3 separate regions of the Homo sapiens genome follow, and all the other regions are reported to be linked to region 1. The links are microRNA targets in miRTarBase. Many come from high-throughput screens and were not tested one by one. Region 1 holds a microRNA gene; each other region holds the end of a gene's coding sequence.

Region 1 (4,242 bases):
GTCTTATATCTAAGTTTCAAATTCATGTCTAAACAATCTAAGTTTATTAATTTCTCCCACATCATACTGCTTCCTGAAAAGCAGTATGTTCTATTTTACTACCAAGACTGCCTCCATGTCTAAAATATTCAAGATGTGGCACCATCTTCTTATGTATATGAATGTGTTATAAAATATATATCAAATGGCTGATCTTAGAGTTGGAAAATAATTTTAAGTCTAGCCCAAAATGTCAAATCTGAGATTCAAAAAGATTAAAATAATTGCTCAAGATCACACAGTTTTTTTGAACCAGTCCAACACTGAAACAATGTTATCTAACACTAATTTTAGTTTTCTTTTCACTTATTTCTTATTCTCACTTAGACACCTATATTTGGCAATGTCATATATTCATATAAACTTTATTATATACTCTGTGATCACATCTACACATTATCATTAAAGACAATAAAATTTAGACAACACAATCAACCATCTTTATTTTCATAATCTTTATTTCCCTTAGGTGGAAAATCAGTGATTTCAATGTCTTTGGCCTGCAGCTCATGCCATATCATGTGTGTTTAATAAGTCTTTAATAAGTCTTATTCCTGTTTAAATTCATTGGCAATGCAAGGGCCTTGTTTTACAGACTTATAGAACATAAATCAGCTTAGATCTTTAAAAGTGTCTTTAAAAAAACTCAAATAGATGTTTCCCTTTTTTTCTATTCTGAATGTCTAAAAATCTATGAGCACACTAACTTATGCTCCTAGAAAAATGGACTAGACAGACATTTCTTGATCCTTATGTACAACTTAAAACTCTAGAAATTATACATAAAACAAACATAAGGTGACTATAAAAGTAGAGAGAAAAAGCAACCCAGCTGGGTATCTTGGGACCAAGAAATTCCATGGAAGTGTGTTTCCTAAGTGTCATTTTGTCTCATATATCTCAGACTCAAATCGTATAAGCTGGCAACCCAGAAATGGCAACATACACAGAAAAAATAAAAATAATAATCTGCTCTCTCTAGCTAAAAGACCAGGAAAGAAACAACCTAGCAAGCACAGCAGAAAACTTTACTATAGCCAGCCACCACAGGAAAAAGGCTGTGACACACCCACACCAGCAAAGGCCAAGTGGGGATCCTGGGCTTCCACACACCCCTGATGGTAATGAAGTGTCCACCCCTTCTCTGCTGAGGTGGTGTCAGAAGCAGCTCACTGGAGGGTCAGGACTTCCACCATCATCCTCTAGGTGACACTGTAGAGGCCATCTAGGTAGCCTGAACTCCCACTCTTCATCCAGTAGCACAGAGGAGTCCCAATTTCATCTCTGGTGCCAATGAATGCTGAATGGGGGACCTGCTACTCCGATAGGGTAGCACCCCTCACTTTCCCCTCCTAGACCGATGTCAGGGAAAGACAGTTAAAAACAGAAGGGTTGAAAATACGGAGATACATGCAGTAGAACATGTTCAAGTTCAAACAAAATTACTCATCATACCGAGAACTAGGAAGATTTCAAAGAGACTGAAAAAATCACAACTAATAGATGCCAACACCAAGATGACAGGGGTGTAAAAATTATCTGAAAAAGATTTAAAAGTAGCTATAATAAAATTTTTTTAAAAATAAAGGCTTTAGGAAAGAAATGGAAAATCTCAGTAAAAAAAATAGAAGAAAGAAACCGGAACAAAATGGAAATTTTAGAACTGAACGTAAAATAACTTAAATAAAAAGTTCAGTGAATAAACTCAACAGCAGAATGGAGGAAATGGAAGATGTGTCAGTAAACTAAAAAGTAGAATAATAGAAAATAGCCAGTCACAACAACAAAGAAAAAGCAGAAAGAAAGAAAACTGAACGAAGCTCCAGTGACCTGTGAGACTATAGTAAAAGACCTAACATTCATGTCAAAGAGTCCTACAAGGAGAGGAGAAAGCGTGGGGCTAAAAAGGACTTGAAAAATGTCAAGGCTGAAAACCACCAATCTGGCAAGAGACATATACCTACAGATTCGAGAAGCAGACTAAAGCTCAGAGACTATAAACCCAAGACGCATCATAATTTAACTTCTGAAATTGTGATTTGTGACAACATGGGTGAACTTGGAGTACATTATGCTAAATGAAATGAGCCAGACACAGAAAGACAAATACTTCATGAGCTCACACGTGGTATCTAAAAAGTCAGACTCTTATTAGTAGAGAGTAGAATAGTAGCTACCAAAGGCTGGAGTGAAGATGGGATGGGGAATAAGATGTTGGTCAAAGGATACAAATTTCCAGTTAGACACGAGAAATTAACTTTGGAGATAAATAGCACAAAAATTAGTAAGTACATGGGTGTTATGATTAACATGTTAATTAGCCTGAAGAATCATTCCACAATACATACATATATCAAAACATCACCTTGTACTCCTGAGATATACACAATTATTATTTGCTGATTAAAAATAAAAATAAACTTCTGAAAACTAGAGACAAGAAGCAAATCTTAATAGCAGCGAGGGGGAAATGACATGTTACATAGAAGAAAACAATTTTAATAATAATAGATATCTCATCAGAAATCACAGAGAACAGAAAGAAGTGGCCCAATATTTCTCAAATATGAAATGAAAACTGTCAACCCAGTGACCTATGCCAAGTGAAAATATCAGAAATAAAGAGAACATCAAAACAGTCTCAGATGAAAGGAAATTAAGATAATATGCCACAACAGATGGCAAAGAATGGACAAAAGGAATTTTCGAAAGCAATAGGGAAGTAAGCAATTAAAGAAGAAGCCTGTGAACATCAAGAAAAAAGAAAGAACACTGTGAGCAAAAATACGGGTACATAAAAGTAGGCTTTCCTTATACTGAGTTTTCTAAGTTGTTTGATGGTTGAAGCAAAAAAAATCTAACACTGTTGTGTGCAGAGTAAATCTTGAAGATAATTATATTACAAACAGGGGAGGCTAAAGAAACATAAAGGGATGTAAAGTTTCTATGCTTCGCTTTACTGGGTAAATGGTGATGCTTGTAGACTGATAAGTAATGAATATATACTGCAGTACCTAAAGCAACTGCTAAAAAAGTTAGACAGAGAATATACCTGACGACACTATAGATATATGAAAGACATTTTGTAGATGTGGATAGATTATTCTAAAACTTATGCAAAATGGCAAAGAAAATAAAATAACTAAAATAACTTTGAAAATCAAGGCTGTGTGTTATTGACAGAGTGGCAAACTCATTAAATAAATGGAAAAGAACAGGGAACCCCAATATAGACACCTACAATTATGCCCAAATGATTTTTGAAAAAAGTATACAAGCAATTAGAGAAAAGATGGACATCCAGCTGGGTGCATTGGCTCGTGCCTGTAATCCCAGCACTTTGGGAGGCCAAGGCGGGTGGATCACGAGGTCAGGAGATCAGCCTGGCTAACACGGTGAAACCCTGTCTCTCCTAAAAATACAAAAAATCAGCCGGGTGTGGTGGCACACGCCTGTAGTCCCAGCTAACTCGGGAGGCTGAGGCAGGAGAATCTCTTGAACCCAGGAGGCAGAGGTTGCAGTGAGCCGAGACTGCACCACGCACTCCATCCAGCCTGGGCAACAGAACGAGACTCCGTCTCAAAGAAAAAAAAAAAAAAAAGATGGACATCCATAGGCAAAAAAGTGGACCTTGACCTAAGTTTCTGACCAAATGCAAAAATAAGTTCAAAATGAATTACGAATGTAAATGTGAAATGTGAAACTATAACATTTTTAGAAAAAATAGAATAAAATCTTTGGAATCTAAGGCTAGGCAAAGAATTCTTAGTCTTAGCATCAAAAGCATGAACCATGACAAAGAAATATAAATTAAAAATAATCAAAATAAATTTTGCTCAGCATAAATCTCATGTGAAAAGAATGGAAAAACAAACTACAAAGTGGGGGAAAATATTTACAAACCACATAGCCAACAAAAAAGTATCATCTAGAATATATAAATAACTCATAAACTGTAAGTGGGAATGTAAAATGGTACAGTCATTCTGGAAAGCAGTTTGTCAGTTTCTTAAAAAAAAACTAAACAAGCCACTAATGTATGACCCAGTGATTGAACTCTTAGACATTTATTACAGAGAGTGAAGAATTATGTTCATTCTAGAATCAGTACACAGATATTCATGAAAGCTTCATTCACAATAGCCAAACACTAGAAACCGCCCTGATGACTTTCAACAAGTGAATAAAGATACTGTGGCTTAT
Region 2 (4,242 bases), not on the chromosome of region 1:
TAATCCCAGCACTTCGGGAGGCCGAGGCGGGCAGATCGCCTGAGGTCAGGAGTTCAAGAGCAGCCTGGCCAACATAGTGAAACCCCGTCTCTGCTAAAAATACAAAAATCAGCCATGTGTGGTGGCACGTGCCTGTAGTCCCAGCTATTTGGGAGGCTGAGGCAGGAGAGTCACTTGAACCGAGGAGGTGGAGGTTGCGGTGAGCCGAGATCATGCCACTGCACTCCAGCCTGGGTGACAGACTCCGTCTCCAAAAAAAAAAAAAAAAAAAAAGAAAGCAAGTTCGTAAGGGGAGTTATGAGATGATGGAGCTTAGATTCTCAGACCAGGAGGAGGCCCATCTGAGCTGCCTCGAGAGGGAAGAGGGTCCCTGCCATAGGCAGATTCAAGCAGGCCTCTGGGGTGGCCTTGAAGGCAAACCTCTTCCCACCCTCAGCTGCGCCTGTTGTGTGCTGAGGGGAGGTTGGGGACCTGGAGCCTGGCTCCTGCTCAGGCACATACTGTTGCCTTCACAGTCGGACATGCTGCGGTCTCTGGCCACCACCCGGCCCACGGTGAATGCAGACGACCTCCTGAAAGTGAAGAAATTCTCAGAGGACTTTGGGCAAGAGAGTTAAAAGCTGCTTCACTTGGGCAATGGTGAAGGTGGGAGGTTGATTGGGGCAAATCCAGGCACTCCCCATGTCAACAGCCAGACAGGGCTCCAGGGCTTGTCCCAGTCAATACAGAGTTCCCTCTGCTGTCTGGCCGTCTGCCAGGGAGCCAGAAGGAAGGGCCTTGCAGCCACAGAGACACTCCACTGCCCTGGGGCACACAGTGGACACTGCTCTTCCTACTTCCTCCTCTCCTGGATGCTCATCAGCTCCTTCTGCCTCCCCCCCTTTTTTTTCCATCTTTTGTTCCCCTAAATTAATGCTGCTTGGATTTTCATCTTATTTATAAAGATAAAATCACCTGGAAGTGTCAAGGAGTGGGGCGGGGTGGCGGGGGAGAAGCAGCCGTGCTGCCAGGTCACCCAGACCTCCAGACAGCCGGCTAGCCCCACTGCCCGTTCCTTTTACGCCCAAGTTTTGCTCCTTGAGAGCAGATTGGCTGATGCCCCTGCAACCCCAGCCCAAGCTCTGCCTCAAAGACCGAGTGACATAAGCCATTCCCACCCTCCTAGGTTCACATCCAGGGCTGTGTCTTCCTTGGGGGAGGAGATGGTGTCGTTTAGATCAGGGTAAGGCAGTCAGGCGGGTGTTCACCACTGCCTTTTCTTCCTCTGAGCGTGAGAACACTGAACCCAGCCACTGCCCCTGGGTCCCTGTCCTGGAAATGGTCTAATAAATCCTTTTCCCTTCTTGAGCTACCCAAGTGATCTCATCTTTCCTTGACTCTTAACTGAGACTCTGAAGGGCCACCCTTGCTTCCAATTAAAAGACCCTCTGGTTTTCTGTCTCCTCTCTTTTCTAAAGCAGAGCAGGAAACAGAACACTGCAGTTCTTAGGCCTGTTCTCCAGTCAGGTGTGCAAGGCCTCCTCCCCTTAAGGCCTCAGAAGTTTGGCTGGGGATGTTTGTGGGATCCAGACAGTTCTTGCCGTTGTTCGGCCTACAGATCAGAGACTGCAAAGTGGGAGCCCTGCGTACCAGACCCGTCCTGCAGCTGTGTTTGTTTGGTTTGGTCTGCCGCTAACATTTAAAAGTCGAGAGTTGCTGGGCGCGGTGGCTCACGCCTGTAATCCCAGCACTTTGGGCCGCTAACATTTAAAAGTCGAGAGTTGCTGGGCGCGGTGGCTCACGCCTGTAATCCCAGCACTTTGGGAGGCCGACGCGGGCGGATCACAAGGTCAGGAAATCGAGAACATCCTGGCTAACACAGTGAAACCCCGTCTCACTAAAAATAAAAAAATTAGCCGGGCGTGGTGGTGGGCGCCTGCAGTCCCAGCTACTTGGGAGGCTGAGGCAGGAGAATGGCGTGAACCCGGGGGACGGAGCTTGCAGTGAGCCGAGATCGCGCCACTGCACTCCAGCCTGGGCGACAGAGCAAGACTCTGTCTCAAAAAAAAAAAAAAAGTCGAGAGTTGACATAAAAATTCAGAATTCTGACTTCTAGAAGATTAAATTAGGTAATGTTGGGCCTGCGTCCTCATGGGGCAGCCTGTCAGCGGCCACTAAGTAGAGGCTGCTCTGTACAGAAGGGGTCCCCCATCCCCACTCATCTGTGTTGCCTGCCCAGATAGCCCCATGGCCATTTCAGTTTGCGACCCCCAACAGACCAAGGACCCAGAGCTGGCAGCCCTGGACCCACGTCCGGCAGGCAGTGAAGCTGCAGAGGCTGTCCCACGTTTACCCCATGCATATAAACAGACCAAAGTCAAAGCACATTCACACAGAAAGACCTGGCCTAGTAAATGAAGCTTATAGCCTGCAAAGGGCTTTGTTCCAACCTTCCCTCTCCAAAACCCAGTACTGCTCCTCTACCTTTCAAACCTGGTTGGGCCAGAACTGATTACATGGCCAACTCTTGGCTCACACTGGGCTTGCACTGGGCCATTTCTTTGCTCTGGTTCAGAGCCTCTGCAGAAGTGAGCTAACTTTGGATCAGTAGCTCCAACACTTGGCTCCAGTGCTGGCAGGTTACCCCTCAACCATAGCAGCTGGGATCTTTGTGGCTTGGGGGTGCTTGTGTAAGTTCTTGGTTATGTGCCCTCAGCCACCAGGATATGAACCGTGTCTGCAGAGCTTCACTTTAGTGAGCTTACAAGTTTTTAAATTTTTACTTCTAGTTACATTTACTTGAATCAGAACGTTGTTTCCTCATTCCTACTGCTTAAACACCTTGACAAGTCCTAGGGGTTAACAAAGGTTAGCATGGCTATGGTCCATCCCTGTGCTCTAGTTAGAGCGTGAAGACACCTGACTTTCCAGTTGTCTCTCTCCATGACCAGCAACAGGAACCACTGACGCTGAACTTTGGACAGTGGCCTCAGACTCTGGCTGCCAGCACACAACCTGCCATCATCGATGTTAAACATGCTGACATGTGCAGAGGAGTTTCCTCCCTGAAATGCTCTGAAATTCACTTCTCTGCCTGGGGATTCTGTTATAAACCTTCTGCCTACATTGGCTTTCACTGTGGAAGTTGATTTCTAAAACTCTGATGAGCTCACAACGTTGACATGTATATGCGTTTTTTGTGAGTGCTTCCTGCTCAAAGTGGGAGAGATTTTACTGGAAATGCAATAAAGTTTGCATTTTATTGCTACCGATGCCCACCACAAAAGCGTTAACCTCAGAAAGCTATAAGAAGCATCAAAAGATTGCCATAGCCCCCTGTAAGAGCTTCTGAACATTGTCCAAATGAAAGGAGGCTCAGCTGAATTCTAATTTTCCTAAAGACCCATGTTTTTAGCATCTATGAGCTTTCTACAAATCTCCCCATTGGCTGCATCTCTGACCTTGCACCAGTATCTGGTTGGGATTCCCTTTTTTTTTTTTTTTTTTTTTTTTTGAGACAGAGCCTTGGTCTGTCGCCCAGGCTGGAGTACAGTGGCGAGATCTCAGCCCACTGCAACCTCTGCCTCCCAGGTTTGAGCGATTCTCCCGCCTCAGCCTCCCAAGTAGCTGTGATTACAGGCGCCTACCAGCACACCCAGCTAATTTTCATATTTTTAGTAGAAACAGTGTTTCGCCATGTTGGCCAGGCTGGTCTTGAACTCCTGACCTCAGGTGATCTGCCTGCCTTGACCTCCCAAAGTGCTGGGATTACAGGCATGAGCCACCAAGCCTGGCCGGGATTCCTTTTCAAAGTCTGGCTGCACCTAGAGCCAGTTTGCTTCTGCTTGGCCTCATGGGGCCTCAGAGAAAGCCACAAAGGAGGATGGGTCTTTCCTGGGTTCATTTAACTGCCATTTATAACACTTTTTCCTCTAAACAGCTTAATGGACTTCCTACTACTTGTATAGTTTGATTTTCAGGACTCTGTTCAGCAAGAATACCTACTTTACAAAACTCAGCATAAAAATGAGGTGAAACAGTTTAACTAAAACTGGAGTTTGGCTGGGTAGTGTGGCTCACAACTGATCCCAGCACTTTGGGAGGCCGAGGCAGGAGGATTGCCTGAGACCAGGAATTTGAGGCCAGCCTGGGCAACATAGTAAGACCCCCGTCTCTATCTTAAAAAAAAAATAAAAGAATAAAACAAGTTCCTTCACCTCTTGACAAGACAAAGCTGACACTTTTTTTTTTTGAGACAGAGAA
Region 3 (4,242 bases), not on the chromosome of region 1:
AAAGTTTTATGAATTACTTGCCGTACACTGTTGAGTGAATTCAGTTTTTGGTTTTTTTTTTTTTTGAGACAGGGTCTCGCTGTGTCACCCAGGCTGGAATGCAGTGGCACAGTCATGGCTCACTGCAGACTTGGCCTCTCTGGGCTCAAACAGTCCTCCCACCTCAGGCTCCTGAGTAGCTGGGATTACAGGTGTGCGCCACAACACCTGTTTAAAAAAAAAAAATTTTTTTTGTAGAGATGGGGTCTCCCTATGCTGCCCAAGCTGGTCTTGAACTCTTGGGATCAAGTTATCCTCCCTCCTCAGCCTCCAAAAGTGTTAAAATTACAGACGTGAGCCATTGCACCCGGCCAATGTGAATCCAGTTTTTAAAAGCCAGATTCTGTATTGCCTGAGAGTAAGTTATCTAGATTGGATTCTCTACAATTGAGAATTTGAAGATAAAATAAAGTGAAAGTTCCTTTAACTTAAGCATTGTTTTGCTCTTACAACATGTAAGGCTGAAACAAGTGCCCATGGGTTTGAAATGAAGCTGTCCTGACCTAGCGTTATTCTCAATGCTAGATGGTGTGTTGAGACCTGTCCCACAGAAGGAAGAGCAGCACCAGGACAAGAAGCTGCGCCTCGGAATCCACTAAGAAGGCCTGTCTACACTGCAGGGGAACCTCAAGAACTTTTCATTGCACTTCTAAAATTCAGCCTTGTTCATTCAGAAAATAAGGATGGATTTTGTGAATAATTGAAAAGATTTTTTAAGGAAGCTAATTTATTTCTAGGATACAAATGGTGTTAATAAGAATATTTGTCTTTTAGATTTATGTGTGGGTTTTCCATAATGTAGTAGTGTGTTATTTTATTACACGAAATGAGGGAGCAATAACTTCAACCAATGTAATCACCAACAGGGACTGATTTCTATTTATCTTGACTTTATATTAGCCAATTTGAAAGGGTCTGCTTCACAAGAGGTCATGCCTCTGCAGGGAATCACACACCTTTTGAGAAATATTAATTCTTTTGAATTACAAGAGTGACAGTTAGTAAACTGCTCCAGGGAAATAAGTGTCATCTTTTAAGAGTCAGTGTATAGCAAACCAAAAGATCACATTTATACCCAAAGCTTTCTAGTAATCAGAATTTACTTAATTAGAATTGACTCATAAAAATAAAGTTAGTGGACTTTGTCTCCATTTTTAAAGTATATTTTGTAAATGTTAATTCTGTGGTCCTGTTTATCACAGACTTTGGGTAGCAATAGGAAGAGAGTGTTATTCTGAGACAGTGTCGCTGCTTGATATCACTGACTCTTGAAATCACTAACAGTGAACCTCAAATTTGGTTATGATGTTAACAGAGAAGAAATATTTGAGTCTGGAATATTGAAACTAGCTTTCCTAGAATTCCATTAATAAATGCTGCTCCCCCATATAGTCTTCCCTTCTGTATAATTAACATAGGTTGTCTCATGGCTTTGATCTTCAAAAGGAAGAGCCTTTTAAAAACATTTGCCAACCTCAAGAATAAATACTGAAAGTCTTGAAAGTATGGTCATTTCAGCTATTCCAGATTGCTGTCTGTGATTTCTCACATTTTTATTTGCTGAGAAACATTCAGAAAATTATTCCAAAAATGAAGGTACATTTTCTGTTCTCTCCTAGGTTAGAGAGGGGTGGCCTGGGGTGCTTCATGAGAAATGTCTTCCTGGATCTGCGGTGGTCAGGTTTGCCTCTGCTTTTGTTCCCTGCCTTTCCGCCACATCACACGGCCTCACTGGGCTTCCTACCAGTTTCTCAGAATTACACGCACGACCATCCAAACATTGGCTCCATGCCAGGGCTGTGACTGCAGCCTGTGTAGGACCATGGGGAGTTCAGAGTCATCATACAAGGCAGCCAAGAACTGCCATAAACACTACACAGATGGAGGGCATGGGATAGGACAGGAGAGGAGGTGATGTACACTTAGAGGTAACTAAGGCTAGTTTGAAAACCGTGAATTAAGATATTCTTATCAGTATAAAAACACTGAGATTGCTTACCTCCCAAATTGCTTTATTGTATTAACTCTCATGCTTCAGCTCTTGGATTTGTTGTTTCTAACTAACATGTCATGTACACCAAACATTTTATAAATCAATCAGTAAATATTTTGTAAGACCCAAAATCCTGGCATATTGCCAGGTCTGTGGATTTGCCTGTTGGGTGTTGGGATGGGATATCAGAGGAAGAAGCATACAAGTGGGAAAAACTGTGATTAGAAAGGGAAAAATAGGCATTTCCACAGTACTATTAAGAGAGGCATGATAATGCCATTTTTTTTCTTCTGTACAACTGGTCAGATTTCAATAAATAATCATTGATGGTTTACTGTGTAGCCTCAGAAGGTGAAGTCTATGAGGGCAGGGAGGTGTGTGTGTGTGTGTGTGTGTACTTTTTAACTGCTGAACCCCAGTGTCTAGAACAGTACCTGGCACACAGTAGGCATTCCATAAATATTTGTTTATTGATTGAATGACTGCTAAACACTGCTAGACTGCGGGGATGAGATGTGTGAGAAATGCCTCCTGATCTTAAGACACTCACAGTCAAGTGGAAGATACAAGCATGGAATCAAGTAATTAAGAAAAATGATTCTCAGGCCAGGTGCCGTGGCTCACACCTGTAATCCCAGCACTTTGGGAGGCTGAGTGGGGTAGATCACTTGAGGTCAGGAGTTCAAGACCAGCCTGGTCAACATGGTAAAACCCCGTCTCTACTAAAAATACAAAAAAAAAAAAAAAAAAAAAAAGCTAGACATGGTATTGCATGCCTGTAATCCCAGCTATTTGGGAGACTGAAGCAGGAGAATCACATGAACCCAGGAGGCAGAGGTTGCAGTGAGCTGAGATCATGCCACTGCACTCCAGCCTGGACAACAGAGCGAGACTTAGTCTAAAAGAAAAGAAAAGAAAAAAATGTCTCTGGACCAGCAGACTATTTGTTAGAAGTGCATATTCTTAGGGTGCTCCCTAGGCTTACTGAATTAGAACCTCTCAGGGTGGGCCCAGCAAGCTGGGGTTTCACGACCTTGCGGGTGATTCTGGTGACCTTTAAGGCTGAGAACTGCCATTGTGGATGTAACTGTAGGAACAGTGGGGGCACACGAGGATTTACCAGCACTCTGGGGAGTCATGGAAAGGACCCTGTAGAGGCAGAGGTGATGAGGTGGGGCCTGAGGGGATCCAGGGGTTTGCCAGGTAAACAGTGGGAATGAGACAAATTTCTGGGAAAAAGTGATGGAGACAGACTGCTGAGCCACCCCAGGAGCCCGCCTGGGTTTGGAGAAGCTCTGTGGGGCACTTTTGACCCAGATCTATAAATTCCCAGTCTTCATCCCTTAGCCTGAGAAATCAGAACTTACACTTAAACAAAAAATACAATGTCTTTCTAAATTTCAAAGAATGGGAGGATGATGGTAAGTTCATAATTTGTAAAAAAAAAAAAAAAAAAAAAAAATAGCTCTGCCATTTGTTTACTGCCTAAGTGGCCACAGAATATGCTACTGTGAGGGGAGCTAAGTGTAAGCATTTGCCTGGCTTCCTTCATCCCAGTCATGCAGAACATACGCAGGTGTGTGTATTTTCATTGTATTGCTGCTGAAGCTTTTTCTTTCCTTTTTCAAGACAGGGTCTCACTCTGTTGCCCAGGCTGGAGTGCAGTGGTGCCTTCATAGCTCACTGCAGCCTTGACTGTTTTCTGTGCTCAAGCGGTCCTCCCCACCTCAGCCTCCCAAGTAGCTGGGACTACAGGCACGTGCCACCACGCCTGGCTAGTTTATTTTTTATTTATTTTTTGTAGAGACAGGGGTCTTGCTATGTTGCCCAGGCTGGTCTTGAACTCCTGGCCTCAAGCAATCCTCCTGCCTCTGCCTCCCAAAGTGCTGTGATTACAGGCATGAGCCACCGCGCCTGGCCAAGTTAGCTTTATTTCTGGGTCAATGAATGGTACCAACACTCTATAAACATGAACTCTATCTTTAGTGACACTATGATACATAAATGAGCTTATCGCCCCTGAATGTCTATATCTAAACCCACGTAACACTTGGGAAGGAGAAAGAAAGAAGTGAGCCCATCTTGGGACAGGAGCTCCTTTGGTGAGTGTAGCACAGAGTGATTTGTTAGGGAAAGCACATGTCTTTCCAGAAGGACATGAGCCAGAACTTTCCTGGAATACTTCCCACCACCCCATGATTCTCAGAAAT

Evidence for each region. Region 1 holds the annotated microRNA hsa-miR-7157-5p (UCAGCAUUCAUUGGCACCAGAGA, at 1,321-1,343, opposite strand). A microRNA usually pairs through its seed, bases 2 to 8, with sites in the 3' UTR of a target mRNA and lowers its output. Matches are read on the target gene's strand: a 7mer-m8 pairs with bases 2 to 8, a 7mer-A1 pairs with bases 2 to 7 and ends in A, and an 8mer does both.
Region 2: the mRNA of VPS4A is a reported target of hsa-miR-7157-5p. Seed matches in the 3' UTR shown: 7mer-m8 at 912-918 and 7mer-A1 at 3,016-3,022.
Region 3: miRTarBase lists CDADC1 as a target of hsa-miR-7157-5p. Seed matches in the 3' UTR shown: 7mer-m8 at 1,412-1,418.

Annotation. Positions count from the first base shown.
Region 1 is chr2:140,585,343-140,589,584 of GRCh38, forward strand. MIR7157 (microRNA 7157) reads right to left here and starts at 1,343; the gene lies at 1,284-1,343. All of the region lies in intron 43 of LRP1B (LDL receptor related protein 1B), which reads right to left. RefSeq lists a silencer at 1,122-1,171.
Region 2 is chr16:69,323,693-69,327,934 of GRCh38, forward strand. VPS4A (vacuolar protein sorting 4 homolog A) reads left to right here. Exons shown (of 11, transcript NM_013245.3): 11 at 516-3,247. The coding sequence ends at 617. It overlaps COG8 (component of oligomeric golgi complex 8), which reads right to left. Exons shown (of 6, transcript NM_032382.5): 6 at 2,736-4,242. It overlaps PDF (peptide deformylase, mitochondrial), which reads right to left. Exons shown (of 2, transcript NM_022341.2): 2 at 3,221-4,242. Among named protein-coding and RNA genes, the nearest start is that of PDF, 4.8 kb to the right of the region's middle.
Region 3 is chr13:49,291,120-49,295,361 of GRCh38, forward strand. CDADC1 (cytidine and dCMP deaminase domain containing 1) reads left to right here. Exons shown (of 10, transcript NM_030911.4): 10 at 565-2,366. The coding sequence ends at 638. Among named protein-coding and RNA genes, the nearest start is that of CDADC1, 45 kb to the left of the region's middle.